7 linked regions of the Homo sapiens genome follow. The protein of the gene in region 5 purifies or fractionates together with the protein of the main gene of each other region. This does not show direct contact. Each region holds a gene or a part of one and is shown on either strand. Other genes may lie near its edges. The genes, in order: PPT2, TBKBP1, CCDC138, NUCB2, ANGPT4, TOR3A and NID1.

Evidence for each region.
Region 1: the proteins of ANGPT4 (region 5) and PPT2 purify together in Homo sapiens (affinity purification with mass spectrometry; one large-scale study listed by BioGRID and IntAct). This does not show direct contact.
Region 2: the proteins of ANGPT4 (region 5) and TBKBP1 purify together in Homo sapiens (affinity purification with mass spectrometry; one large-scale study listed by BioGRID and IntAct). This does not show direct contact.
Region 3: the proteins of ANGPT4 (region 5) and CCDC138 purify together in Homo sapiens (affinity purification with mass spectrometry; one large-scale study listed by BioGRID and IntAct). This does not show direct contact.
Region 4: the proteins of ANGPT4 (region 5) and NUCB2 purify together in Homo sapiens (affinity purification with mass spectrometry; one large-scale study listed by BioGRID and IntAct). This does not show direct contact.
Region 6: the proteins of ANGPT4 (region 5) and TOR3A purify together in Homo sapiens (affinity purification with mass spectrometry; one large-scale study listed by BioGRID and IntAct). This does not show direct contact.
Region 7: the proteins of ANGPT4 (region 5) and NID1 purify together in Homo sapiens (affinity purification with mass spectrometry; one large-scale study listed by BioGRID and IntAct). This does not show direct contact.

Annotation. Positions count from the first base shown.
Region 1 is NC_000006.12:32,152,839-32,157,178, reverse strand, and holds the start of PPT2 (lysosomal thioesterase PPT2 isoform a precursor), read right to left. Parts: upstream 3,039-4,340; 5' UTR 2,775-3,038; intron 2,593-2,774; coding exon of another isoform or gene 2,585-2,592; coding exon 2,402-2,584; intron 2,150-2,401; coding exon 1,996-2,149; intron 1,492-1,995; coding exon 1,396-1,491; intron 1,309-1,395; coding exon 1,201-1,308; intron 1-1,200. UniProt on the Homo sapiens protein: Catalyzes the cleavage of thioester bonds from S-palmitoyl-CoA or S-palmitoyl-N-acetylcysteamine (unbranched structures) but does not have activity against palmitoylcysteine or palmitoylated proteins, branched structures or bulky head groups.
Region 2 is NC_000017.11:47,692,785-47,697,218, reverse strand, and holds the start of TBKBP1 (TANK-binding kinase 1-binding protein 1), read right to left. Parts: upstream 3,059-4,434; 5' UTR 3,025-3,058; exon of another isoform or gene 2,556-3,024; intron 2,470-2,555; exon of another isoform or gene 1,141-2,469; 5' UTR 1,107-1,140; coding exon 882-1,106; intron 509-881; coding exon 386-508; intron 131-385; coding exon 26-130; intron 1-25.
Region 3 is NC_000002.12:108,785,351-108,789,795, forward strand, and holds the start of CCDC138 (coiled-coil domain-containing protein 138), read left to right. Parts: upstream 1-1,420; 5' UTR 1,421-1,429; coding exon of another isoform or gene 1,430-1,472; coding exon 1,473-1,565; coding exon of another isoform or gene 1,566-1,583; intron 1,584-2,681; coding exon 2,682-2,739; intron 2,740-3,501; coding exon 3,502-3,616; intron 3,617-4,445.
Region 4 is NC_000011.10:17,311,035-17,314,792, forward strand, and holds part of NUCB2 (nucleobindin-2 isoform 1 preproprotein), read left to right. Parts: intron 1-158; coding exon 159-249; intron 250-837; coding exon 838-896; intron 897-993; coding exon 994-1,086; intron 1,087-3,758. UniProt on the Homo sapiens protein: Calcium-binding protein which may have a role in calcium homeostasis. Acts as a non-receptor guanine nucleotide exchange factor which binds to and activates guanine nucleotide-binding protein (G-protein) alpha subunit GNAI3.
Region 5 is NC_000020.11:871,326-875,083, reverse strand, and holds part of ANGPT4 (angiopoietin-4 isoform 1 precursor), read left to right. Parts: intron 1-669; coding exon 670-800; intron 801-942; exon of another isoform or gene 943-1,963; coding exon 1,964-2,124; 3' UTR 2,125-3,758. UniProt on the Homo sapiens protein: Binds to TEK/TIE2, modulating ANGPT1 signaling. Can induce tyrosine phosphorylation of TEK/TIE2. Promotes endothelial cell survival, migration and angiogenesis.
Region 6 is NC_000001.11:179,085,019-179,088,776, reverse strand, and holds part of TOR3A (torsin-3A precursor), read right to left. Parts: intron 3,150-3,758; coding exon 2,884-3,149; intron 867-2,883; coding exon 688-866; intron 1-687.
Region 7 is NC_000001.11:235,975,072-235,978,090, reverse strand, and holds the end of NID1 (nidogen-1 precursor), read left to right. Parts: intron 1-102; coding exon 103-224; 3' UTR 225-2,261; downstream 2,262-3,019. UniProt on the Homo sapiens protein: Sulfated glycoprotein widely distributed in basement membranes and tightly associated with laminin. Also binds to collagen IV and perlecan. It probably has a role in cell-extracellular matrix interactions.

The sequences.
Region 1 (4,340 bases), on a different chromosome or scaffold from region 5:
GATGAAATCTCACTCCGTCACCCAGGCTGAAGTGCAGTGGCAGGATCTCCGCTCACTGCAACATCTGCCTCCCGGGTTCAAGCAATTCTCCTGACTCAGCATCCTGAGTAGCTGGGATTACAAGCGTGTGCCCACATTCAGCTAAATTTTTTTTGTATTTTTAGTAGAGATGGGGTTTCACCATGTTGGCCAGGCTGGTCTCGAACCCGACCTCAGGTGATGCGCCCACCTCCCCCTGCCAAGATATTGGGATTACAGGTGTGAGCCACCACACCTGGCAATAGCAAGTACTTCTATCTAGTATCTACTATATGAGCCAGGTACTATTCAAAGTACATTGCATTCATTTATTTATTTAATCCTTACAACCACCTGGTGAAGTACATGCTATAATATTTTACAGATAAGGAAAACTGAGTAACAGAATGGTTAAGTAACTTGCCCAAAGGCACCCAATAGGGTCAAGATTCAAACCCAAGTATTCTGGCCCCATGGTCTGGTCTAGAGGTTGGCAAACTGTGACCAAAGGACCAAATCCAGCCTGCTACTTGTTTTTGTAAATGAAGTTTTACTGGAACACAGGCACATTCATTCACATATGGTACATGGCTGCTTTCACACTACAACAGCAGAATTGAGGAGTTGTGAAACAGACTATATGTCCTACAAAGTCAAAAATATTTACTCTCTGGCCCTTTATAGACAAGGTTTGCTGACTCCCACATCAGACTAAACCTTCTAAGGCAATAAGGTGACACACTTAAAACATTCTGGGCCAGGTGCAATGGTTCACACCTGTAATCCCAGCACTTTGGGAGGCCGAGGCGAGTGGATCACCTGAGGTCAGGAGTTCGAGACCAGCCTGGCCAACATGGCGAAACTCCATCTCTACTTAAAATACAAAACTTAGCCGGGCATGATGGCGCCTGCCTGTAATCCCAGCTACTAGGGGGACTGAGGCAGGAGGATCACTTGAACCTGGGAGGCGGAGGTTGCAGTGAGCCAAGATGGTGCACTGCACTCCAGCCTGGGCAACAGAACAAGACTCCGTCTCAAAAAAAAAAAAAATTCTGAACAGAGCCTGTTCAAATAACTCAATAAATGTAAGTTATCTTTATTGTCATCACTGCTATTGGTTGTAGCAGAGGTGGAAGCAACTGACCTGATCCATGGAAGCCCCAGTTCAGCATCCCCACTCACCATGCCAGTAGTTGCAGATGGAGAATTCCTGGCCCCAGGGGCTATAGCAGATCCGATAGAGGTTAGACCGCATGGAGGTGGGGAACAGCCACTTCAAGTAGTCCGTGTCTGGCAAGCGAATGGCAATGCTAAGTGACCATAAACCTCTGTTCCCCCAAAACTCAGGGCATTCTATGGAGTCTAGTGCCCACTCACCTCCATACTGTCCCATCTGTGGAGAGGAGAGGGAGATGAAAGAATCCACGTTGTGATCATCCATGACAGAAAGCAGAGCCCGGCACACAAGGCCCCCTGTAAGCAGAACACCACATTGGGCAGGCACTTAAGGACAGCAAAGCCAGCAGCACCCCCCACCCCCACCACACACACACACACACACACACACACACACACAGAGACACACACAGACACACACTGTACACAAAGGAGACTGAGGCTTACAGAAGGCAGGCACACCCTGTGCCAAAAGGTCACACATCATATAAGTGACTGAGCCCGAATTAGATGCTGGGCCTCCTGCCTCTAGTTCTAGGATGTTTTTACCTGCCCCATTAGCCCTTATGTCCAAGAACCATGGGTAACAGGAAGCAAAAGGGCAGCAGTGTAGGGAGCCTCCCTCCCATTCAAGACAGAGATGAGACCCAGGTGCTGAGGGAAGTCAGAAAGGAAGGGCTCAGGTACCAGGGTTGTGCCTGGAGCAATGTGGTTCAGAAAAAGGGACGCTAGGAAGTGTCCCTCAGATAAGGATCAAGCCTCAGATAGGGCTTAGGAGTTAGGGGCAGGGGAGTCGCCTACCCTGCGAGTAGCAGATGAGATGCACCCCTTGAGGGGCCTTTGCCATGATGGGGACCACAGCCTCTCGGAACCCTTGCACCTGTTCCCACAGGGGTCGCAAGCTCTCTCTCCCATCGAAGAGATCGAGCACTGTCACCACAGTCCCGGGGTGTGTCTGTGGGAAGGGGGCAATGCAGCCACCGGGGATAGGCTAAGAAGCTCCCACACGCCACCCCCTGGCCCGCGTCCACAGGTCTATTGTACCCTGCTAGAACCAGGGATCCCGTCCCCCAACTCTCCCCCACGCCAGCACCAGCTCCCTGAGGAACTGGGCAGGCCCAGAGGGGTGGCTTTCAGTTCCCCGCTCTCCCTCCCCTGCCACAGTAGACGCCTCTAACGCCCTGCACCCAGGTGTCCCCTGCCAGACCTCATTGATGTATTCCAGCAGGTGGCGGAAGCTGTACGAGCTGTCGAAGAGCCCATGCACCACGATGACCGGCTTGTAGGACGCGCGGTGGGGCGCGGGGGCTGCAAGCAGCAGCAGCGGCAGGAAAGGCAACAGAAGCAGGACCCACGCCGCGGGGAGCCGCTGCCCGCAGAGCCCCAGCATGCTCCCGCCTGAGAAAGGGGTGATAAGGGCATGTGAGGGAGATGGCAACACCCTCCTCCCTCGGAACAGACGCCCGGCAATCAAGCCACCTCCTCTCGCTCCCACACCAGGTCCGTGTCACAAAATAGCCTACTTTTAACTTACTCCAGCCCTCTCCCTACAAACACACCCCCCCACCACGTTGACGCACCAACGCGCACCCGAAGTCCCGCCTCCAACTCAGCGTTCGGGGGACTTGTTCTCTAGGTCCAGGATCTTCCTAATGCATCGCCTCAGCCATGAACAACGCGGAGTTCTTTAATACCCGTGAGCAGCAGCCCAGGCCCCTTGAAGAGTGCAGACTCCCACCTGGCCTGGGTCCGTAGGCCTCGCTCCACCCGCTGTTTACTTATCCCAAGTCTGGAACCCACGGTGGCGGGGGGAAGGGTGAGGAAAGAGAGCGCAGGGGAATGACGGATGGGAGGGGGAAGGGCGGGCTGCTTGGGGTCGCGCAAATCCGTCACGTCCGGGGCTTTCTCTGGCAACCGCGCGAGCGTTCCCCGCAACACAGACCCAGGACAGGAGGGGCAATGGAATATTCCATTGCGCCCTAGGTGCTGGGGAGGAAACAGGCGGAGCGATCCATTTAGGCCAGTGGGGAGAGGAAAAAGCAGCAAACATATTCTGGGAATGGAAAGAAGGCCTCTCCAGGCTTCGTTGCCCCCAGCGACCCAAAAGTCCGATTTCCCCGCCTTGATTCTCCCCACTTCCCAATACAGGCGTCTGGCTCCGCAGCAGAACACGAAGTTTGCATTCCCCAAGGGGCGGCCAGGGGGCGGACCAGGGAAAGGTAGTCCTCTGCATTTTGCCGTGTGCTGGGTGAGTGGCAGGGTGGCCTGGAGGGCTGATGCCAGCCCGGGCGTGCCCCTCAACACCCACCCCACCCCACCCTCCAGTCCGCCCCAGGTCAGCGACTTACAACTCTTCATTCTGAAGTGCGTGTAGTGCCCTTGTCTCCAGAGACGCAGAGAGTCCTCGAGGCCCCTTGAGCTAAGTGCAGCCTGGCCCAGTTTCTCCTGCCCTACTCTACTCCCCTCCCTATAAGCGACCCACCCTCAAGGGGCGGAGGGCGCGTAGGGATGCGCTGACTCATGCCCGCGTAATTTCGACCAGTCTTTCAACCTGAACGACCCCCAGAATCTGGCTGTCTGAGTTATCTGTGGGTGGCTCCCTACCGAAACCCCCAGGCGCCCCACCTCTCCGCCTGTGACCCCTAACCGACACCCTAGTGCCTCAGGGCTTTTACTTGCTAGGGCTTTTACTTAGCATTTAAAGACGTTTCTCTAGAGATAAGGATTTCTCAGCATGTCTGAGCCCCTCTCTCTGTTTACAAGGTCATTGCTTGGTCTAAATTTGTCTCAATCAAAACATTTTTGCGCTCAGAATGGTGTAGAGTGACGATGAGGTGGCGGTAAGGGGTTGAGCGCTCACGCGAACGCCTAAGTGACCAGAACGACTGGTGTGAAGCCGTGATCTGACTCTGTGGAGCCTGGGACTGGTTTCAGCGAGAGCCTCTGTACTGCTCTGTAGTCTCTGCTAGGACATGGACGAAAAGGGACGCAGCCGGGAGAGCGACTGCCCCAGGTGGGGGCTGGGGGGACGTAAGGGAAGAATAATAATTATCTGGCTGTGTTTTTGTTTAAAAAAAAAAAAAAACTGGTGTAAATCTCCATAGACTTCCTATCCTCGCTCCCTTCACCCACCCACGCGCTCCCAA
Region 2 (4,434 bases), on a different chromosome or scaffold from region 5:
GCACCTCCGGCTCCCCAGGCCTCACCATCTCCCTCAGCTCTGTCTCCAAGTCACTCTTCTCCACGCAGAGTTTCTCGTAGGCCTGGATCATCTCTCCAAGCTGTTCTTCCTGCTCCTTGTTCTTCTGTAACTGGATGAGGCCCAGAGGGCCCCACCACAGGGTCAGTCCCACACTGGACTTGGAGTTGGAGAGCTCCCTGCACCTCCCCACCCCCACTCCCAGCACCCTATGGAGGGGCAGGAGGAGCTGCAGCTGGGCTTAGGGAGGACCTGGCCATCTCTAATCAAAGGGCAGAGGCCAGATGCTGGGGGGTGTGGAGGGAAGGGTATCAGAAACAGACTGGAGCAAGATGCTCAGGGGGTGCGCCCAGCCTGGTAGGCTCACCTCATGCTGGAACTGGTTGAGCCGTTGCTGCAGGCTGACCTTCTCCACCTCCAGCAGGGAGCCATCCTTGATTTCATACAGAGAAAAGCCATGCTCCTCTCCAAAGTCACTGATCAGTGGGTACTGCAGGTGGGGTGGAGCTTCAGGAGAGTGGATTCCCGGGTGCCCAGCCCAGGCCTCAGCCTGGCTGTGCCCCCAACCCACAACCTGCCTCAGACCTTTGACCCTCCTTCTCCTTGGCTAGTGGGATCCCAATTCCCATGGGTCTGTAGCCATCTCCCACCCACCGGATCTGTTTTAGATCCCAGATCCAGCCCTTCTGAAGCCAACAGGAGACAGTTCGCATCCGGAACAGCCACGTCTCTCATGGGAGACCCTCAAGTTCCCAAGAGTCTGCACAGTGACCCCTCTTTTGGATCCCTGGTATCTACCAGATTCCCAGTCCCCCTCCCCATCCCATACACTCTATCAGGCGCCCTCCTCTCCAAGTTCTGACCTTGATCTCGTAGACTTTGAGGCGGCGTCGGAGGGTGGCGTTCTCCCTCTCCAGGCCCCCCAGCCGTTCCTTGATGTCTCCGTAAGCAGTGATGAGGGCAAAGTGGGAGGCGGAGCACATGTCGCCCCCAAGCGAGGGGTCTCCGGGACTGTCCAGCCACACCTCACTAGGCCCCAGGGCCTCCTGCGTCAGGATGCTGATGTCGTCCTCGAACATGGACTCCATGGTGAGGGCCGGGCCGCGGCCCACACGGGGCCTCCTAGGAGAGCAGGAGCAACCGTGGACAGGGCCGTCTGTCTAGGGTTTGTCCCTGGTACCCCTCTCCCTGGCTCTGCACTCCCTGGGGCCGGCTAAGATGCAACCCAGAAACTTCCTGCCCCGAGCTCAGCAGGGACTCCCATGGCCCCTTCCCAGACTCCTCAGCCCCATCCTCTCTGCCGCCTTGGGGAAAAGGGGCTGGAACCAGGTGAAGACCCCGCTGCCAGGGTGTTGACAAGTAGGGACAAGTAAGCCAGGCCGGCAGCAGGGGCAGGCTCCTGCCAGAACCCAGGGAGACCTGTGGATGGGAGAGGGCTGCCTTCCCAGCCGGGCCCGGCCCATTCCTCCGCGCTTCTCCACCCCAGGCCTTACTTCCCCAAATACCTCGCCGCCAAGCTCCTCAGCCTGGGCCTCTGGCACCCCAGCTCCTCCCCAAGGAAGGCCCAGAGCTGCGCGAGGGTCGGCCCCTCCACAGTCGGCACGCCCTCGGCTGCACCCCCGCCCAACTTCCCCACTTCCTCCCGCAGGATCCCAGAGTTCAGGAAAAGGAAGCGCCTCCCCCGGGCGCACCGGGGCTGTGGCAGCGGTCCAGGACCCCTTGGCCCCTGACCTGGGACCCACAGGAAGTCCTTGGCTGAGTGTTACGGGGCGCAAACTGGGGAAGGGGACCCAGGTGGAAGGGGACGCGAACGAATTCCCAAGGCTGTCTCAGGGTGCCCGCGCACCGGGAAATGGGGAACCCTACGAGGGGGCAGGAATGACTCAGGCTCCCGAAAGCAGGAGTAGGCAGTGAGGGGGTGCGTGTGTACTTCTCTCGGGCCTGGTTATGAATGTGTGTCTGGGGTTGGCGTATGGGGGGAGTGTGCGTCTGTGAATGAGTGTAGGTGTGTCAGTCAATGAGTGCCTTCGGGGTCGCAGGGGCGTCGGGACGGAGTGGGGCAGCGACCAGGAGGCTGGTGTGTGCACGCGTGCGTGAGCGCGTGGGCAGGGTGGCACGTCCGGGCCGCGTGTCACGTGAGACGCGAGGGGACTGTCCGAGGTGTGTGCGCGCGCTGGAGCGTTATGTGCACCCCGGAGAGGGGGCTCGGCAGGGAGCTGTGAGTTCAGACAGCGGGGCCCCCAGGTCGGGCTGCAGGAGCTTGGGGTGCAAAGGGCTCCGGCGCAGGCTCCAATTCAATCCACCCCCCCCCCTCCGCCACCCACAGGCCCATCTAAGTGCCAGGGAAACGCGAGTGACTGGGTCTGAGTAAGGAGTGTGTGCGCGCGTTTGTAGGGCCGGCCCCACCTTTAACCCTCTCCTTCCCACGCCATCCCCTCCCCCCAGCTCCGCGCGCCAGCGCTTACCACACCCCCCCAGACCCCCGCCCGCCCCTCTGCGCCCACCCCGCTGGCGGGGCTCTGTCCCCGAGGCCGCACCACAAATGCCTCCTTCCTCCGCATTCCTCTCTGGGCCCAGCGCCCGGGTGAGCGCAATGGAAGGCGGCTGGGGAAGGGGTGAGTGCCTCTGTCGGCCCGGGCCCCTCCTGCGGCCCCTTTAAGAGCCGCCCTTTAAACCCCTTTCGCTCGGCCGACAGAAATTGTCGCCCCTCCCCTCTCGGGGGCCGAGACCACGCAGCCCCCTCCCCCACAACCGGCCGAGCCCTGGGCCCCCGGACACCCTCTCGGGGCCGGGGAAGGGGCTCCGGGAGTGGCGCGGCCTGAGGAACGGCGGCGGAGGGGGACGCGAGGGGATGAGGGCGGCCGACACCGGACCCCTTCCCTCCCAGCCATCCCGTGCGGCTGCCAGCCGCCCTCCTGCCGCCTCCTCCTGCCCACCCCGCGACCCCTGGGGCCCAGCCCGGGCGCCGCTCCCCTCCCCCAGCCCTAGCCCCAGCCGGGGACTCACAGCTGCTGCCGGTTCCTGCTTGTAATCGCAGCTTACCCCCTCCGCCTGCTCCCTCCCCAAACGGGCACCAGTGCCCCCACCCCCCTGGTACCGCGCTCTGCTCCTCGCCCTGTCGCCGCCGCCGGGTCTCTCCCCACCCCCCACCCCTCCCCCCAACCCCCTCCCTCCCGTCCGCCCCGCTCCTCCTCCGCCGCCGCCGCCTCCTCCGCCTCCTCCTCCCCGGCTGCTCCGGGTTTCTCCAGCTGGGAAGGCGCCCCGGACCCCGCCGCTGCCACCACCACGTGGCGAGAGGCGGCGGCCCCTACGGTGCGGCCCTTCCTGGCAGCGCGCCCGGAGCCCACCGGCTCCCTGCGGCGCCAGCGGCCCGCGCTGGCGCCCCCTCCCCGACGCCTCCCGGCGCAGTGTGGCGTGGTGGCGTGTGTTGGGGGCGTCTGCGGTCAGTGCAGGGGCCCGGCTGATGCTTTGGTTGTTTTGGTTGTTTAGTTATGGGCTGTATATTTGGGGAGGAAGTGGGGCTATTTATCTGGCTTTTTTTTTTTTTTTTTGGTCTTTGCGCTTTTGAGAAGGAAATCATTAGACCTGCTCTTCGTTGCTCTTGGTAAAAGGGGCATTGCTGCGATAAATACATTGAACATAGGGTACAGAGAGATTAAAGCTGTAACTTCTTTGGAAGTGAGAGTAAACTAAGGAGGTCAAAGATTCATTCATGAAGAAGGACAGCCATCTCCCTCCCCACACACCACTCCCCGGCCACCCTCAAGTACCCACAGGTCAGGGAAATGAAGAAACAACAGATGTCACCCTGTGCACAAAGATTATTTGAGCACCTGCCAAACTGCTGGGCAAGAGAAACAAGTTTTTTGCTACTTTCCTGCTGTGTGACCTTGGGCAAGTTACCTTAACCTTTCTAAGCTGGAGATCATGCCCCACCTAAGCACTCTCATGGAGGAAGAATGGGGATCAGAACTAAATACAGCAGCCTGCGAATGCTCAGGAAGTGTTAACGATGTCATTTTGAGTATTGCCTGGTGGATTAAATAATGTGGACAGAGGCATGGTCAGCCTAGCTGCAGGTAGAGAATGATCAGGGGAACCCTGGAGCACTCTGGCTGAAGAGCATCCTCTGTGGACAGGGAGGCAAAGCCCGGAAGCAGGGGATAAGCTGGGCGGGGGCTTTTGGCAGATTCAGCCTTAGCTGCGAAGACTGCTGGGAACCTGAGCCTACCTTTTTGGCTCCTGAGGTGGGATGGGGGTGGGAATCTCCGAGGGGGAGGATGGAAGGAAAAGGTTTCTTGCTCTCTCTGAGCTTTGAAAAGCAGCAGCTGCCATCTTTCCTCACTGCTGGGAGAAAATTGGACTGAGAGGTGAGCTTCTACCAGGAGAGCCAGCCAGAGCTCTAGACTCATTCTC
Region 3 (4,445 bases), on a different chromosome or scaffold from region 5:
TATTTCAAATTGGCTTATTTGGAAATCTATGTAATATAAACTGATGTAAAGTGTGTTGTAACTTTTCAGCTGAGACAGTTGATGCCTTCGTCATGATTTTAGAATAAATTCTTAAGTTAATGCAAGTGCTTTTTAAGAGACTTTTTACAGATTTGTATGCTTTCCTAAAGCACTAAAGTTACAAATTAAAAAGCTTTAAAAACTTTGACCAAAAATTTGACAAAATGACATGTAAACTGACTTTTCCCGTATTAGTATTCCAAAGATGCTTAAAAGTGGCTTGTGGCATTTATGAGAAAGTCTTTGTGTCACATTTCAGGAAAGGACTTTGATTTCTCTTTGTTATTTAATCACTGATGTGGTCTAAACCCACGATAATATGTATCTTTCCTTTTAAACTGGATTTTATGTTGTCTCATTAAAATCTGCTTAAAGATAGAATAAAATTCATTATTTGTACATCTTAAGTGGTACTTTATGGCAAAAAGTATGGCCTAAGTAATTTTCAGATAATAACTGCTGAAGTACAGATTTTATAAAACTTGGGCATTTGGGAACTTTAATCCAGAGAATTTAGGAGTTGTTAGTCCAGAGATGCAGCTGACAGTCACAATTTAGAAAGTAAAAGATTACACCACTGTAATTTTATGAATGAGAAAAATGAAGTGGTTGTACAGTTCCCCTCAGTCAGTTTTGTTTAACATAGGTTTTCAGGTTGATGTATACTATGTACTATGGTTAGCACTGTTGTAGGTATTGGCAAAAGCTTTTTTCTTTTCAAAAAAAAAAAGTTTTTTTTCCAGGGTGCTTACATTCTAACTATTCTTTTTAATACCCTGTTATACCCCATATGGAACACAGGGAAAGTGAGGTAATCTGCAATGTCTATGCTCAGCTTTCCCTTTTTTTTTTTTTTTTTAACTTTAAGAGATGGGAGTCTTGCTATGTTACCCAAGATAGATGTAACTCTCAGGCTCAAAGCAATGCTCCCGCCTCAGCCTCCTTAGCAGCCGGGACTACACGCGCGCCACCACTCCCGGCTCAGATATACTCTTGGTTTTTCTTTTATATGGCAGTTAGCAAAGGTCACTTCTGATGGAACGACCGGTCTATGTGGTGAGCGCAACGCACACCAAACTTAACAGGTTAAATGGAGCTGGAGCGGAGCGCTGCAGGCAGGTGCGGGGCCTCGGTGCCCCTCAACCCGTGGCACCCAGGCAGCCGGGGCAGGACTATCGCGGGGAGATGCAATACTACTCAGTTACGAGGTGTGTAGTGCTAGCACGAGAAACTTGGAGGACGCGCTGACAAGCCGGGCTGCAGTCTCCGGGTCGCCCCGCCCCGCCCTTTCCCTGCCGCCGTGCGTGCCTCGGGGGGGCGGGGTCTGGCACGTCGTGACGCACTGCGGCCGCGTAGCGCCGCGGGTTTGATGAACGCGGTTCCCGGGGAGACTGGTACGGTTGCTGTGTGCTATGGAGCCGAGGGTCGTCAAGCCACCGGGGCAGGATTTAGTAGTGGAGAGTCTCAAAAGCCGCTACGGACTCGGGGGCAGCTGCCCCGACGAGGTGAAGCCGCCGCCTGAGGTCCGCGGGTGGGCTCCTGCTGCTGGGGGGCGGCCCGCTCCGTGCCCCGCGCAGCCGGCCTGGGGGCGCGCAGCGGCTCTGGTCCCGGCCCCGGCACTCCCGCCGTGGCTGCGGCTTGGGCCTCGTGGAAGCAGGCGGGAGGGGCGGGCGTTGCGCTGCGGGGGTGCGGGGGTGCCGCTTCACCTATGCCTCTGTGTTCCTGGTATACTGGGCATGGTGTGGTGTTGGAGAAAGTGCTATTCAGCTTTTTTTTGCAGTGATGTGAGTGGAGTTGTGAAAACAATTGAATTGCTTTTTAAAAGCGGCTTATTTCGAAATAATTTCGGACTTACTCAAAAGTTGCTGCAGTATTACCAAGAATTCCCTTGTACCCTCACTTGCATTCACAAATTAATATTTTGCCACATTGGCTTTACCATTCGTTCTCTCCCCTTCCCTCCCTACAAACGCATTTTTTCCCTTTGAACTATTTGAGGGTGATTTGCAGGCATCATGCCCCTTTACCTCTGAATAGAAATAACTTGTGCATTTTTCCTAAGCATAAGGACGTTGTCTTTTAATAACCACAGTAATATTTTCAGGAAATTTAGAATTGGTATAATATTTGGTAATCTAGAGTTCATAAGAAATTTCAGCAATTATCTCGATAAAACCTTTTATAGGAAAATTTTTTCCTAGTGCAGATCCGACCCAAGAACGAGCATTGATTGTATTTGATTGTCCTTTTTGTTGCCTTTAATCTGGAACAGGTTCACAGCCTTTGTTTTCTGTAAGGTTGTTTTTTTTTTGAGAAGTGTAAGAATTATTTATTGGATTGTTTCTCCGTTTGGGTTTATCTTATAGATGCTTCTTCGTTAGATTGATTATGCATTTTTGGCAGGAGCATGAGATGAGTGATGTGTGGCCTGCTGTGGGGAGGAACATGACGTTGGTTTGTCACATTATTGATGATATTAGTTTTGATCACTTGGTTAAGATGGTGTCTACAAGATTTCTCCACTCTAACCTTTGTAATTAATACATAATTTGTGGGGAAATATTTTGAGACAGTAAATTGATTTTTAGTATACAAATTAAATCTTTTCTTTTTTTTTTTAGTATGATTTTTCAAATTTTTATCAGTCTAAGTATAAGAGAAGAACTCTAACCTCCCCAGGTAAGCCGGTATTTTGTATATTTGGGGGTTTCAAAAATTTAATTTGAGGCTGGGCGCGGTGGCTCACGCCTGTAATCCCAGCACTTTGGGAGGCCGAGGCAGGCGAATCACCTGAGGTCAGGAGTTCGAGACCACTCAGGCCAACATAGTGAAATCCCGTCTCTACTAAAGATACAAAAAATTAGCCGAGCATGGTGGCGGGCGCCTGTAATCCCAACTGCTGGGAAGGCTGAGGCAGGAGAATCGGTTGAACCCGGGAGGCAGAGGTTGCAGTGAGCCGAGATGGCGCCACTACACTCCAGCCTGGGCAACAAGAGCGAAACTCAGTCTCAAAAAAGAAAAAAATAGGCTGCGCGCGGTGGCTCACGCCTGTAATCCCAGCACTTTGGGAGGCGAGGCGGGCGGATCACGAGGTCAGGAGATGGAGACCATCCTAGCTAACACGGTGAAACCCCGTCTCTACTAAAAAAAATACAAAAAATTAGCCGGGTGTGGTGGCGGGCTCCTGTAGTCCCGGCTACTCAGGAGGCTGAGGCAGGAGAATGGGGTGAACCCGGGAGACGGAGCTTGCAGTGAGCCGAGATTGCGCCACTGCACTCCAGCCTGGGTGACAGAGCGAGACTCCGTCTCAAAGAAAAAAAAAGAAAAAAAAATTTGAGAGAGAAGATTTTAAAAATAGTATTATTTAGACTTATGGCCAGTGCCAGATATTTTGTGATATATTGTTGTGGTAATCTTTCATGGTTTCTTTGTCGTTGACAGGTGATTTGGATATCTACTCTGGAGATAAAGTTGGTTCATCGTTAAAATATTCTGATGAAAGCAAGCATTGTAGAACACCATTGGGCAGCTTATTCAAGCACGTAAATGTGAATTGGTAAAGTACCCTGAAACTTTACTGTTGCTACCCCCTCAGTATCTCAAAAAACTGAGAAAGAGAAAAGGGCAGGTTATATTTTTGCTCTTTCCTGAGGACAAGTATGAGGACAAGTATAAGGCAGTCTGGAGCCTGCTAAATAGTTGAAGCGAGTCACTTATTAATTTTTACTGAGAATCTCTGTAATAAAAGCATAGACCTAGCATTATATTTAGTGGCATAATGGAAAGTTATTTATATAATGTAAAAGATGAAAAAATATATTTTTATGGTTATTCATTCAGGACCCAAATGAAGACTCTGCTCCCTTTCTTTAAAAATTTTTTTTTAGAAAAGGAACTATGGGCCAGGTGCGGTGGCTCACGCCTGTAATCCCAGCACTTTGGGAGGCCGAGGCGGGTGGATCACCTGAGGTCAGGAGTTTGAGACCATCCTGGCCAACATGGTGAAATCCCGTTTCTACTAAAAAATAGAAAAATTAGCCAGGCTTGGTGGTGTGCGTCTGGAATCTCAGCGACTTGAGAGGCAGAGGCAGGAGAATCACTTGAACCCGGGAGGTGGAGGTTGCAGTGAGCTAAGATTGTGCCATTGCACTCCAGCCTGGGTGATGAGCAAAACTGTCCTGAAGAAAGAAAAAACGAACTACAAAAAAAACTGCCATACAGGTTTTGTTAGGCAGCAGCATTTTACTATCTCTGGTGTGTCTGGTATTGTATGCATTGTATTTAGGTGATTGAGAGAGATTGAAGAAGGTGGTCTGGGGAGATGGTAACTACAGGGTATGTAGGATACAGTGCTGGGTTAAAAGAAGTTGCCGTTCTGTAAGGAA
Region 4 (3,758 bases), on a different chromosome or scaffold from region 5:
CATTTTTAGATAAAGATACTTCTTCGTATCAGCGGATTTTTATTGTGTTATTAGTACTTAAATCTTGATTCTTCTGCCAAGTTCCTCAAATTTATATTTTGAGTCTGTACAGATAGATTATATTTTGTTTTGAGCAATTTTTTAAAATTGGTTCACAGGGAAGCAAAGATCAACTAAAAGAGGTATGGGAAGAGACTGATGGATTGGATCCTAATGACTTTGACCCCAAGACATTTTTCAAATTACATGGTAACGATTTGATACAAATATTAATATTTATATCTGCTGCTTGAAAAAGTATTTGCTTTCCTCTTAATTGATTTCTGCCAAGGTCTGCTATTGAGTTCTAGTGAGAGTAAATGGTTAGAGTTTTTCTAGGGTAATATGATAGTCTTTATTGCTCACCTGCAGTATAAAATGTTTTAGATTAGTAGCTCTGTCTTTATACTGGCTTTTACTGTTGAGTCATATGAATTACTGCAAAGTTCTCTGTTAAGTGAAAACTAAACTGTGACTAGCTAGGTTATATCTAATAGGCTTTATACTATAATATTACATTTTACTTCTACTCTCATAGAATATTGCTTTACTTTATATTTTTGGAAAAAAATGGTCAAGATACGCTTTCCTTACAAATGATTATGAATTACAAATAAATACAGCATATTTATCAGTTCAGCTGATCTAAAGCTTCATGACAAAGAATAAATGCTTTTCTGCAGTCTATTGATGCTTCACATCAGTACTACTTTTGTAAACCCTTTATAAATCATTGTATTTTAATTATTTTCTAAGTTATTAAAATCTATTTTTGCATTTGTAACTTTTAAACTTTAGATGTCAATAGTGATGGATTCCTGGATGAACAAGAATTAGAAGCCCTATTTACTAAAGAGGTAAAGGAGTTTATTAAGTATTCAGTGTTCTTGTTCTCTCTCTTTTTTTCCTGTTACTTTCTTTCCTTTCATGTTCATTTAAAATTTTTCTTTTTAGTTGGAGAAAGTATATGACCCTAAAAATGAAGAGGATGATATGGTAGAAATGGAAGAAGAAAGGCTTAGAATGAGGGAACATGTAATGAATGAGGTATGTTTTAAAAGTTTAAGATAATATGTTATTTCTATGTATTATTTAATTCTTGCAATAAATCTTTAAGATGGAAAATATACAGAATTTGTATTTAAATGGAGTTTGCGTTTTTGTTTTTGTTTTTTTTTTGAGACAGGGTCTTACTCTGTTGCCCAGGCTGGAGGCAGTGGTGCAATCATGGCTCCCTGCAGCCTCAACCTCCTGGGCTCAAGCAATCCTTTGGTCTCAGCCTCCTGAGACTGAGGAGGGACCACAAGCTGGAGCCACCATGCCTACCTAATATTTTTTTTTTTTTTTTGAGACGGAGTCTCACTCTGTCATCCAAGTTGGAGTGCAGTGGCGCGACCTCGGCTCACTGCAACCTCCGCCTCCCAGATTCAAGCAATTCTCTGCCTCAGCCTCCTGAGTAGCAGGGATTATAGGCACCCACCACCACACCTAGCTAATTTTTTTATTTTTAGTAGAGACAGGGTTTCAGCATGTTGGCCAGGCTGGTCTTGAACTCCTGACCTCAGGTGATCCATCCGCCTTGGCCTCCCAAAGTGCTGGGATTATAGATGGGATTACAGGCATGAGCCACTGGCCTTTTTTGTTTGTTTTTGAGACATAGTCTCACTCTGTCACCCAGGCTGGAGTGCAGTGGTGCGATCTTGGCTCGCTGCAACCTCTGCCTCCCGGGTTCAAGTGATTCTCTTGCCTCAGCCTCCTGAGTAGCTGGGATTACAGGCATGCACCACCACGCCTGGCTGATTTTTTTATTTTTAGTAGAGATGGGGTTTCACCATGTTTGCCAGGCTGGTCTTAAACTCCTGACCTCAAGTGATCCACCCACTTCGGCCTCCCAAAGTGCTGGCTGGGATTACAGGCATGAGCCGCCGCACCAGGCCGATTTTTATTTTTTTTAAGAGACAGCATGTCTTTGCTACGTTGCCCAGGCTGTCAGCTAACTTTTTAATTTTTGGAGACACAAGGTCTTGCTATGTTGCCCAGGCTGAAGTTTGCATTTTTGATCCAGATTATTATACTAGATGCCTTTAGTATGAATAAAATAATTTGTAACTACTTTAAAATATTCTAAAAGATAAAGATGCTACTGCATATCAGGTATAAAACTTTTTTTTTTGGGCTGGGCATGATAGCTCATGCCTATAATCCCAGCACTTTGGGAGGCCGTGGCAGGTGGATCTCTTGAGGTCAGAAGTTCGAGACCAGCCTGGCAAACATGGTGAAACCCTGTGTCTACTAAAAATACAAAGATTAGCTGGGTGTGGTAGTGCATACCTACAATCCCAGCTACTCGGGAGGCTGAGGCATGAGAATCGCTTGAACCCAGGCGGCAGAGTTTGCAGTGAGCCAAGATTACACCACTGTACTCCAGCCTGGGTGACACAGCAAGACTCCATCTCAAAACCAAACCAAAGCAAACCCTTTTTTCAGTACTGAAAAACAAAAACAACAACCTCTGGTTACTGCCTCATTTCTCTGTTTCTCTTCAAGGAGTTGTCTATTCTTCCTCTTCCTGTTAATTCTTCACTTTTCCTTTTCGCCTTAATCTGTGCTGATACAGTTGATGCCTCCCTCTTTCTCGAAATGCTTTCTTCACTTGGCTTTTAGGAAACCACCCCTCCTCAGTTTCCTCATACCTCACTCTCTCTTCTTTGCTGGCTCTTCCTCCTCTTTCCAAGTTCTACATGTTGCATTGCCCTGGGCCCATCCCTTGGCCGTGTTCTCCTTTCTCGCTTCGTTCTCTCCTTAAGTGATAGTGTGGAGCCCCATGTCTCTATATATGCTCTATATCTGCATGTATGCTGGTGAGTTCAACATTTTTATCTTCAGCTGTCTCCTTTCTCTGAGTTCTAGGGTTGTATCTGCTTGACAGTTCTCCTTGTGTTTAACTCACATCTTCTTCAAACCCAGATCTGTTCCTTCCTCAGCCTTTTTCATTTCAACAAATGAATCATAATTCATCTAGTTGCTCAGGCTAAGTCATCCTTAACTTCTTTCCTCACATCCTGCATTTCCTCTATAAGTTCTGTCTGATCTATCTTTCAAACAGATCCAGAATTTGACCACTTCCCCCCACTTCCACTACTATTTAATACCAATCAAGTCCAAGCAAGTCTCCTAACTGGCATCTCTGCTTCTATTCCTTACCCCACTGCAGACACTTCTTCATAAGTAGGCAGAGTAAGCTCTTAAAAGCATAAATCAGGTCATGTGCTCTCTTGCACAGAAATACTTCAGTGGCTTGCAATTTCCCTTGTAATATGATCCCAAATCCCTCCTATTTCCAAAAGATTCGTGACTTCATCCTTGCCTTGCTCTCTGTGACTCTCTCTCCTCTGGCCTTCTGATGTTTACCTCTCATCAAGCTTGTTCCCATTTTAGGGCATTTGGACTTAATATTTCTTTTTTCTGGAATACCCCTTTTCTAGATCATCACAAGGTTTTACTTCCACCGAGTCTGTGCTCAAATGTCCATGGTCCATCCAATGACTACGCTCATTTAAATATTTGCCTTTCTCTGCAGTTCTTGCTCTGCCTCTCCTCCCTTTAAGCCAAAAACTCTGATATAGGCATCATATGCAGGGTAACTGAATCCCACTATTTTGCTTCAGTAACTTTCATCTGAATTTTTGAGTGGTAAATGCTAAATTGGGGTCTCTGTT
Region 5 (3,758 bases):
TGCAAAGCACTTTGAACACATAGTAGATGCAAAGAATAGAAAAAAAAGAAAGAAAAAGAAACGTTGCCGGGCACGGTGGCTCACATCTGTAATCCCAGTGCTTTGGGAGGCCAAGGCAGGCAGACTGCTTGAGCTCAGGTGTTCAAGACCAGCCTGGGCAACATAGTGAGACCCTATGTTTGTATTTTACAAAAAATACAAACATTAGCTGGGCATGGTGGCCCGTGCCTATTGTCCCATTTACTCAGGAGACTGAGGTGGGAGGATTGCTTGAGCCCAAGAGGTCAAGGTTGTAATGAGCCGTGATTGTGCCACTGCACTCCAGCCTGGCAACAGAGCAAGTTGCTGTCTCTAAAGAAAAAAATGTATATGTATTAGCCATTATTATCATTATTGTGACCATTATCACTTCTCTCCAAGACTCAGGTTCAGTGAGATAGGGGAGGCCTGGCATACAGTAAGTGCTTTGTCCCTGGGAGGCAGCAGGCAGGGAAGGCAATCCAGGAAGGGAAACAGCCCAAGCACTCCACCCAGGCTGGGGCTGTCCCTCCAAGAACACCTGGAGGGGAAGCCCAGCCTGGGACAAAGCCACTGGGGAAGTTCTTGCTCGACACAGCCCCAACCTGACTCTGGGCCCTTCTGCCACCACCACCTCTGGGTGGCCTCCAGGCTTTCTGTGGTCGGGTACAGCGGCTCAGCAGGGCGCCAGAGCAGCCTGGTCCTGCAGAACACCAGCTTTAGCACCCTTGACTCAGACAACGACCACTGTCTCTGCAAGTGTGCCCAAGTGATGTCTGGAGGTAGGTGCAGGGTGGGGTGAAGCTCCGCCCACCCACAGGCTCACCCAGATTGACACTCCCATTCCCTCCCCAGGTTCTTGTGCGCCCAGGTGCTGTCAGGAGGATGGGTGCAGGTCTGGGCCTTGCCCACCCATAAGCTCACCTGGCTGTGCCCCTTCGGTGCCTTCCCCCATTGAGTCCTTGAAGTCCCCTCCAGGTCTCACCTCCTCCTAAAGCTGGCACCACCAGTTTTCCTCAGAGACAAGGCTAAAGAAACACTGAGTGCAGGGCCCCGGGGGGGAGGCACCCTATACCCTATCAGTCCCAACCCCAGGCAAGCCGAACCAGGATCAGGAGACCAGAGGGAGGCAGAGGGGCAGCTCCACACCAGCTGTGGCTCAGGCAGTGTTCCTTGGTAGGCACAGAGGTCAGAGAACAGGAAGTGGGGTGAATGGGAGACAGAGACAAAGTAAGAAGAACAGAGACAGGGGGAGAGACCTTCTGAGACACAGAGGACAGATGGAGAAAGAGAGAGACACCAAGGCTGTCAGAGTCATTGAGCAGCAGATGGAGAGCTATACTGGGGCAGAGAAGTACAGAGGGAGATGGGGGAGAAAGACTTAGCCCAAGGAGAGGCCGGGAGACAAACACAGCATGTGAAAGATGGGGGCCCAGAGGAAGGGAGGGCCAGAGACACGAAAGGCAGAGAGGGACAAAGACCATCAGAGAAAGATGAACACAATGGGACACACAGAGACAGACCCACGCACAGAGACCATAAGAGAGAAAGAGATGAACCTGGAGAGTGAGAGACTCAGAGAGAGTGACAGAGACCACTAGAAAGCAGTGAGCAGAGCGATGAGGGGAGGTTGGGGAGCTGGAAAGACAGGTTCAGTGAGGGAGGAAGACAGGGACGCCAAGGGCTCAGGGAGAAGGCCGGGAGGAGCAAGGGGGCTCGAGGAGTGGCCAGAGCCCCTTGCTGCCCTCTAGAGGCCCCGGCTGAGCAGAGGGTCTGTTGTCCACCCCACCCCCACTCCCACCCAGCCCCATCCCCAGCCAGCTGGCTTCCCAGAGGAGGCAACAGCCCCGATTAGTCTTTGTTCTCTTTGGGACACAGGGGCTGCCCTCTTGCCACTGGCTGGGCTCCCACCTCCACCAAGCGCCTGTCCTCCCTCTTCCACCAGGGTGGTGGTTTGACGCCTGTGGCCTGTCAAACCTCAACGGCGTCTACTACCACGCTCCCGACAACAAGTACAAGATGGACGGCATCCGCTGGCACTACTTCAAGGGCCCCAGCTACTCACTGCGTGCCTCTCGCATGATGATACGGCCTTTGGACATCTAACGAGCAGCTGTGCCAGAGGCTGGACCACACAGGAGAAGCTCGGACTTGGCACTCCTGGACAACCTGGACCCAGATGCAAGACACTGTGCCACCGCCTTCCCTGACACCCTGGGCTTCCTGAGCCAGCCCTCCTTGACCCAGAAGTCCAGAAGGGTCATCTGCCCCCCAACTCCCCTCCGTCTGTGACATGGAGGGTGTTCGGGGCCCATCCCTCTGATGTAGTCCTCGCCCCTCTTCTCTCCCTCCCCCTTCAGGGGCTCCCTGCCTGAGGGTCACAGTACCTTGAATGGGCTGAGAACAGACCAAACTTGATTCCCATGACCAATGGTGGGGTTGCAGGCAGGTGGGAATGTATTTGCACATCGGAAGCTGCCCAGATGGCCCAGGTTCTCTCCCTTGGATTGGCAAGAAGGCCATCTCCCATTCTAAGCTCCTGTTCCAAGATTTTCTAGTCTTGAGATGTCCTTGAACTTTCTTTTCAAGTCTGAAGGGGCTGCATCCACCCCTTAGTGGGTGGGTTAATCATTATTTCCCCTTCACACTTCACCACTTCTAGGTTCTAATGACCCTAGATCTCAGGGTCTTTAGACTTCACCACTTCTAGGCTTTACCACTTCACCACTTCTAGGCTCCAATGTTTGGAGCTCAGGGTCTTTAGGAGACCCAAAAGGACATGCTCCTTCACCTCCAGCATGTCCTAGAGGATGTGTCACAGGGAATAACTATGGCTTGTCTCTAAAAGTACCTATGAGCAATGAGAAAAGGAAACAGCAGGTTAAGTCAAAGTGAACAGGCACTCTTCACTGCAGGACTGATCAGAGCCTTTAATATGGCCAAGTGCCTTGTGACTACCCATGAAGGGGCTAGAGTGGGCAGCTTTCTCCAAATTTACTTATTTGAAAATGGGCTCGGTTTGTCCCAGAGCATCTCACAGGACTGTAGATGCTCTTGGACAAAGCTAGTGCTCCCCTGGCATAAGGAGGAGCCCTACGACCCCATCCCCACCCCAGCTATACTCACCCTTTTTGGCTACAAGGGCCACAGTGACAGCCTCAAACAACCTCTAAAAACAACTGGAAATAACCTTTCAGTTAAAACAGATACCATCCCTGAAGAAGGGTCTAGAACTAGGTCCCTGTCTGTGTTATAGGCTCATGTCCTCCAAGGCTCCTTCAAGTCCCAGGAAGCTGATCTCTACCTGGGTGGCTTCCCTTAGGACTCCCTGTAACCTCAACTCCCCCAGGCTCAATTACAGGGACTGTTAGGCAGGACATCTGTCTCCAAGTCCAGATCCTCTCTGCCTCCAAGCCCTAACCCCTAGCCTCCCTCCCTTCCCCATCCAGCAGTGATGCTGCCTCTGTGGTGGTAGGTGGGGAGCTGCAGGGGAGGAGATAAGGCCTCTGCCTGAGTTTGGGAGACCAGGGCCCTCATAGCTTCTTTCAGAGGATGGAGTCAGAAAGGATCCACAGCTACTCTGTCACCTGCCCCCATCACTGTGTCATGCTGTCTGCCCTGTTGTCATCAGCCAACACCCAGGCATAGCCAGGAGCCCACCTGCCCTACCGCCAGGATACACCTCTGTCCTCAGAAGGTTTTCTCCTGGATGAGACTGAGCCAATGGGAATGGGACCCCT
Region 6 (3,758 bases), on a different chromosome or scaffold from region 5:
TTCTAAGTTGGCTTCACGCAAAGATGTCAGTGAAAGCACAGGAACCTCAGTGCAGTGATTCAGTGACTGGGTCCCGCATGGTAGCGTCACAACTGAACTACAGGTACTCAGAGGAAGCATGGGTTTCTCAACCCGTATACCCTGGATTTTAAGCCAGTGATGACTTCTCATAATCGGAGAAGAAACAGACTTCCAAGGCTGAAGGAAGAAATGGCCGTGTTGGACTTGATGGGAGACTATGCCGTTCTCTAACCAGGCTTGCCTTGGGAATTTGTTTCAAAAAATCTGTCACCCAGATTGGAGTGCAGTGGCCCGATCTCAGCTCACTGCAACCCCCACCTCCTGGGTTCAAGCGATTCTCCCACCTCAGCCTCCCGAGTAGCTGGGACTACAGGCACATGTCACCACGCCCAGCTAATTTTTATATTTTTTGTAGAGATGGGGTTTCACTATGTTGCCCAGGCTGGTCTTGAACTCCTGGACTCAAGGGACCCGGCCGCCTTGGCCTCCCAAAGTGCTGGGATTACAGGCGTGAGCTACCACAGCTGGCTGCTGCTTTCTGTACCAGAGTTTGTGCTGTTTTTTCTTGAGGAAAGGTTCTGAACCTGGGGGCGTGTGGAAGCCTCCACTGCCAGCTAGTATCTTCCCCTCCCCCAGCCCTCCTGACTATTGTTCCCCAGAACCCACCTGAGAAACAGAAAGATAGTCCATGGAGACTCAGCCCTGTGGCCCTCAGGGGCCCGGCGTTCTAAGTGTGGCCCAAGGACCTCCAGCAGCCCTGGGTGCAGCTTCTCCGCTTCATCGAAGATGAACAGGGTCTGGTGGCAGAGCTGCTGCGTCTCCCGGATCTGGCTCATCAGCTGCTCCTGCACGGGATATAGGGAGCAGCTGGGGAAGTGGTGACTCCTTCCACCTCCGGCCTTGAGGGCGTGGTTTCCCCTGGGCATGTGCAATGGACCCCCTGGGGCTGGGTTCCCCACCCCCCGCCCCCCGCCAGAACCTATCAAATCCAAGCTCTTGGGGAGGGCCTAGGACATTTGCATCTGACCAGCTCCCAGGTGATTCTCAAGCACCCTGAGGGTTGAAAGCTAAACAAGGTGAAGCCAGCTTGGGGACTAGGAGACAGCCTAGAAAGGAGTGGGGAGAAGCCCTTCTGCCCTTGAGAAGGGGCCCCTGCTCCAGCCCTGCTCTCTCCTCTCCAGGACTACATCCCATCCAGGAGCTAACAATGTCCACACACCCGCAAACTTTCATTACTTCTACAACAAAAACATCCAGGCGCAACTTCCCTGTTTAAGCTCAGGGTCTATTCCCAGGGGGTGGATAGGAGTTGAGCTTTCATACAGGGGTGATGGGCAAAGAGAGGCTCATGTGCCCAGAGGCAGCCACAGTCCCCTGCCCTGAACTCCCGGGTGCAGAGCGCCCACTGGCACCCTGGCTGGGCCGAGATCTCAGGGGAGCAAGCCTGCTGAAGGACTGACTGGGCCTAACCAACATCCAACTTGGCTCCTGCAAGCTGTGGAGGGTTCCTTGCCCCAGGCAAGACAGTAAACCCTCAAGTGAAAAGATGGTTCTTTGCAATGTTCATCGAAATGGGCAGGGAATATATTATTCAGGGCCAGCTCCCACTCCAGAGCCCACACTCCCTGTCTACTGGGTGCACCTTTGTGGGGGAAAGTGTGAGGTGCAGGGCTATGCACATGCCAGTTTTCACAGCAGGGAAGCTGGGGCTGCAGCAGTCTTGCCACAGTCTAAGCCAGACAGTTCTGCCCGGAAAGGCCCAGCTCAGCCTGCCCCTGCCCTCCAAAGCCATATGGAAACTGCCAGGAGACGCGGGCAGCCTCTGTCCTCAGACGCTGACATAATCTTCCCAGGTGAACACATTCCAAATATTAAAACAAAGCCAAAGACAGGTGCAGTCAATTCTGTCAGGCTCTTCTGGTATGTTTTCAATACTACATGGCTGAATTAGTAGAAGAAACCCAAAATGGCAGAACAGCCAAGGAAATTTCTGTCCATCCACTTGCTGGTATATAATAAGCTGATACGGGAAGACATGAAAAAATCAGGTAAGATAGGATAGGCCTGTTTTCTTTTTTTTTTTTTTTTTTGAGATGGAGTCTTGCTCTGTTGCCCAGGCTGGAGTGCAGCGGCACGATCTCGGCTCACTGCAAGCTCCGCCTCCCGGGTTCACGCCATTCTCCGGCCTCAGCCTCCCGAGTAGCTGAGACTACAGGTGCCCGCCACCACGCCCAGCTAAGTTTTTGTATTTTTAGTAGAGACGGGGTTTCACCGTGTTAGCCAGGATGGTCTCGATCTCCTGACCTCGTGATCCACCCACCTAGGCTTCCCAAAGTGCTGGGATTACAGGCGTGAGCCACCATGTCCGGCCAATAGGCCTGTTTAAATTTTAAAAAGGCAGGATATACAACTTTCTGTCCAACGTAGTTACAATGACAAAGAGCCTGGGGAAAGGTTCCGCACCAAAGGCAGCACATAAAATGCTACCTCTCCTTAGCTGACAAGGGTGTGTCCGTGTGGAGAGTCTGACAGTTTTTGCTTTTCTCTGTTCTACACTGCAGTCTGTGACATTTCACTACTTCTACAACAAAAATCAACATGCAGCGTCCCTGCTTAAGCGCAGTGTCCAGCCTCTCGAGTGTGGCTGTTTGGGGACAGAGCAGGGGGTGGTGTTTGGAACGCCAGTCTCTTCCACATGCTAAGGGCCTCTGTGAGGAGTGGACGGAGTGGCTCTGTCACAGGTTCTGCCACCTGTCCCCACCTCCCCAGGCTTCTCCAGAGCCCATTTCCTTGCAAGGAAGGGCTGGCAGAAGGGTCTCCCTCCCAGCACAGAGGCCTCACCCCAGCCCTGGTCGGCCTCACCTTGTACAGGTCCACATATTTGGGGTGAGGAAAGTGGAACGTGGCGATGAACATCCTGACACAGTCACTCATCAGCCCGTCCCGATACAGGTTCTCCACCAGCATCCGTGCCACGAAGTTCTTGCCTGTGCCAGACCAGCCGTGGAACGACAGAGCAAGGGCCTTTTCTGGCTGGGGCGTCTCTAAGTAGCCCCTCACTGTTCTTAGGACCAGCTGCTGGACCAAATGCTGGCCATGCAGCCGCACATTCAGGTCCCACTCTAAGCCTAAGGACAGGAAAGAGGTAGTCACAGCAAAAGGCACACACAGGCCCATCCACCACAACAGCCAACAGCCAAGAAACCAAGCAACTCTGAATCTCTCTCGGGTGGAATCAGTTACTCCTCCTGTTTGGCCTTAGAATAAGAAGCCAGAGGGCAGACTTTGTAGCAGAAGGGATTCAAGGACTACTTTCTTTTTTTTTTTTTTTTTGAGATGGAGTCTTGCTCTGTCACCAGGCTGGAGTGCAGTGGCGCAATCTCAGCTCACTGCAACCTCCGCCTCCCTGGTTCAAGCGATTCTCCTGCCTCAGCCTCCCGAGTGGCTGGGATTACAGGTGCCCACCACCATACCCAGCTAATTTTTGTATTTTTAGTAGAGACGGGTTTCACCAGGTTGGCTAGGCTGGTCTTGAACTCCTGACCTCGAGATCCGCCCACCTCGGCCTCCCAAAGTGCTGGGATTACAGGCGTGAGCCATTGCGCCCAGCCTCAAGGACTACTTTTTGAAGAGTTTGGGAAATCAAGATGGGACTCAGGGAGAGTGGAATCACCCTTCCTAAAGATCCTGCAGATACCCAGAACAGTTGGCACAGACCTGTCTAGGGAGGAACCCTG
Region 7 (3,019 bases), on a different chromosome or scaffold from region 5:
AAACTAAAAGGGGGATCACACACAAGAAGGAGCCCACTATCTTAAATGGCTATGGAGTCAGATCAGAGAGAGGGCTATTGAACTGATTTCTGCCTTTTCCAGGCCATAACTACTGCTCAGTGAACAATGGCGGCTGCACCCACCTATGCTTGGCCACCCCAGGGAGCAGGACCTGCCGTTGCCCTGACAACACCTTGGGAGTTGACTGTATCGAACAGAAATGAAGACAAGAGTGCCTTATTTCCTTTCCAAGTATTTCACAGCAACACTCTACTTGAAGCAACTTGGTCCAGATTGAAAAGTGTCCTCTGGCTGAGTGGCCACTAGGCCCAGACCCAGCCCAGCCTGAGCCCCAACAACTTTTCCCTCACTGTTCCCCAAAACATGCACCCTGGACTTCTCTAATAGAAAAGTCTCCACCCCTACACAAGGACAGAACCCTCCACCCCTACCCCCAACCCTCAGACAGACTTATACACCCCTGAGTGAGGATTACATGCCCATCCCAGTGTCCTAGGACCTTTTCCCAATACTAGCCCCCCAGTGGTGAACAGAACCTCCCAAATTTGAGTTGCACCCTTCCCTGTGGCCTTATGAGCTCAGCCTCGCTTTGAGGTACCCACCGTCCTGTCAGCTCCTTGACCTATGAGCCGGGGCCTGACTAGGAAAAGTTGGGAGTTAAGGAGGAAATTAGCATTCCTTAATGTTTTGTTTTGGTGCTCTGAATTTCTTCTTTATTATAGTCCTATAGTTTTACTCCTCAGTTCCTCACCATCATCATCTTGTCTAAGACCCCCATTATAATATTCATGCGCTGCTTTTTCATCAAAACCTACCCTGTCCTAGAGATCTATGGGCATTTGGTGGATGATAATGAGCAGCCCCTCCCAGATAGAATGTCAATATTTGAGCAGTAGGATATTGGCATTTGTTAGTTAAAGGCTTAAATCAAAAGAATGTCCAATGGTAGGAATTTCAAGGTGTAGGTCAGATATTTGAGAATAGGGGATTTTTTTGATGTGCCTTAAATTATACCAAAGATTACTAATTATTCCTCTTTGCCCAAAATACTTGCATCCAAGGTTCTAGTCTCTGTTGCTGTGCTGGTCTTTAGCCCCACTGCTTGCACTGATGTCCCTCCTTTTCACGGAGACCTATCTGAGGTACAGGATGGGGCTGGCACCAGATGATGTCCCACCACAGTCCCTCACCTCCGGCCTCCACATGACAGAACCAATTTACACTCAACCATGACCTCACCCCTCCTTGGTTTCTCCCTCGATCTGTGGCCCTTTTTGGATGTATTCTTATCTAACAACACAATCCGGAAAGACTGAATTGAATATTTATACTAATGGTTCATATCCTTTATTGCTCAATGATCTAATTAAAGGGATCATTGCCACATTTCATGTTTATATTTCTACAATTTGTTTAGAAAACATCTCCTGACCATATCAGTAGCTCGTGTTATCTTTTTATCAACTGCTTCCCAGAGTCCTAAAACAATAGAAATTTTGGATTGAAAAGTTCAGCATAAGGAGTTTGAGTCAGTAAAGGATGGGATAAAGGAGTCGAGATGATTCAATGAAAAGTATCACAAAAAAGAGATTGATCAACAAGAGAAATAAAAAAGCCCAAGAGGAAGTGGTAGGGGAAGGAATTTAAGAACAGCAATAAGTAAAACTCTTAAGTAACTCCAAAAAGAAAATGGTACATTTTGCCAAAGACCACTTATACTTGAGAACATGGAAGAATTTGCCTGATACTCTCTTTGGGGAAAAGAGTCTCTCCTCTTTTCCTCAAACCCCAGTACACTCAGCCTCTCTGCCCCACCTTCTCCTGACTTTGTCCTCACTTGCTTCTGCAGTACATTGGAACCTGAATTGAAAGAAAGTCTTCCTTGAATAATTGGAGTTTGTCTTGAGAGGCAAATATAGCCCCAAGAATCACAAGATTCGAGGACCATGTAGGTCTTTTACGTAGCCCAAATCCATAAATTAGTCTCACTTTTTGTATTTATCGTTTCATATTAAACCCTCTATATCAAATGTTCATCATGATTTTGTATGATTTTTATAACTATTTTATTCATTTTATTAGATTTATTCTAAAATTTTTTAATGGTAAATTCTTAAACTGTGGAAACCACTGAAGGTGCTTATTAACTGTTCTCCCAGATTTGTACAAGTATTGGATGATTCCTTGAGTTTACAGCTGTACAAATAGTGTGGAAAATAAACTTTTTTTAAAAAAGAAAATCTTCCTCTATCTTTTCTGAATGAAGAGATTTAATGTTGGGAGGCTGATTCATGATAGACAGACAGACAGCCACTTAATAATCTGCAAAACCTGTGGAGCCCAGAAACTCTTATCCCAGTATTATGAGAGCTAGTATGTTTCTCAACCACAAAAAACCTTAGGGGTTGTAATTTACCTAAAAATGAGTGCAGTGTCTCACACCTGTAATCCCAACACTTTAGGAGGCCAAGGTGGGTGGATCACTTGAGGCCAGGAGTTTGAGACCAGTTTGGGCAATACAGGGAGACTCCATCTCTGCAAAACATCAAAAAAAAAAATTAGCTGGGCATGGTGGCACACACCTGTAGTCCCAACTACTCAGGAGGCTGAGGTGGGAGGATTGTTTGAATCCGGGAGGCCAAGGCTGCAGTGAGCTATGATCGTGCCACTGCACTCCAACCTGGGCAACAGAGTGAGACCCTATCTCAAAAACTTAAAAAAAAAATAAAAAATAAATTATATTATAGATTTCAAGCCACCCTTTTGGATATTGTTTTCATTGAGAAAATATATTCTACAAGCAGGCAATAGAAAAAGTTTTCTGATTCAGCTCTGGAGATAAGCTATGTTTTAATTCTCTTTTTACCTCCAGAAGGAAGAAAGATGCTTTCCTGGCACTGGCTATGGAGTGAGACCCCTGGTCTGTTCTAAGCTGCCACCAACAGGCAGTGCCACTCATGCTGGCCCCTGGGTGGGATGAGAATGGCCTCTGAGTTGA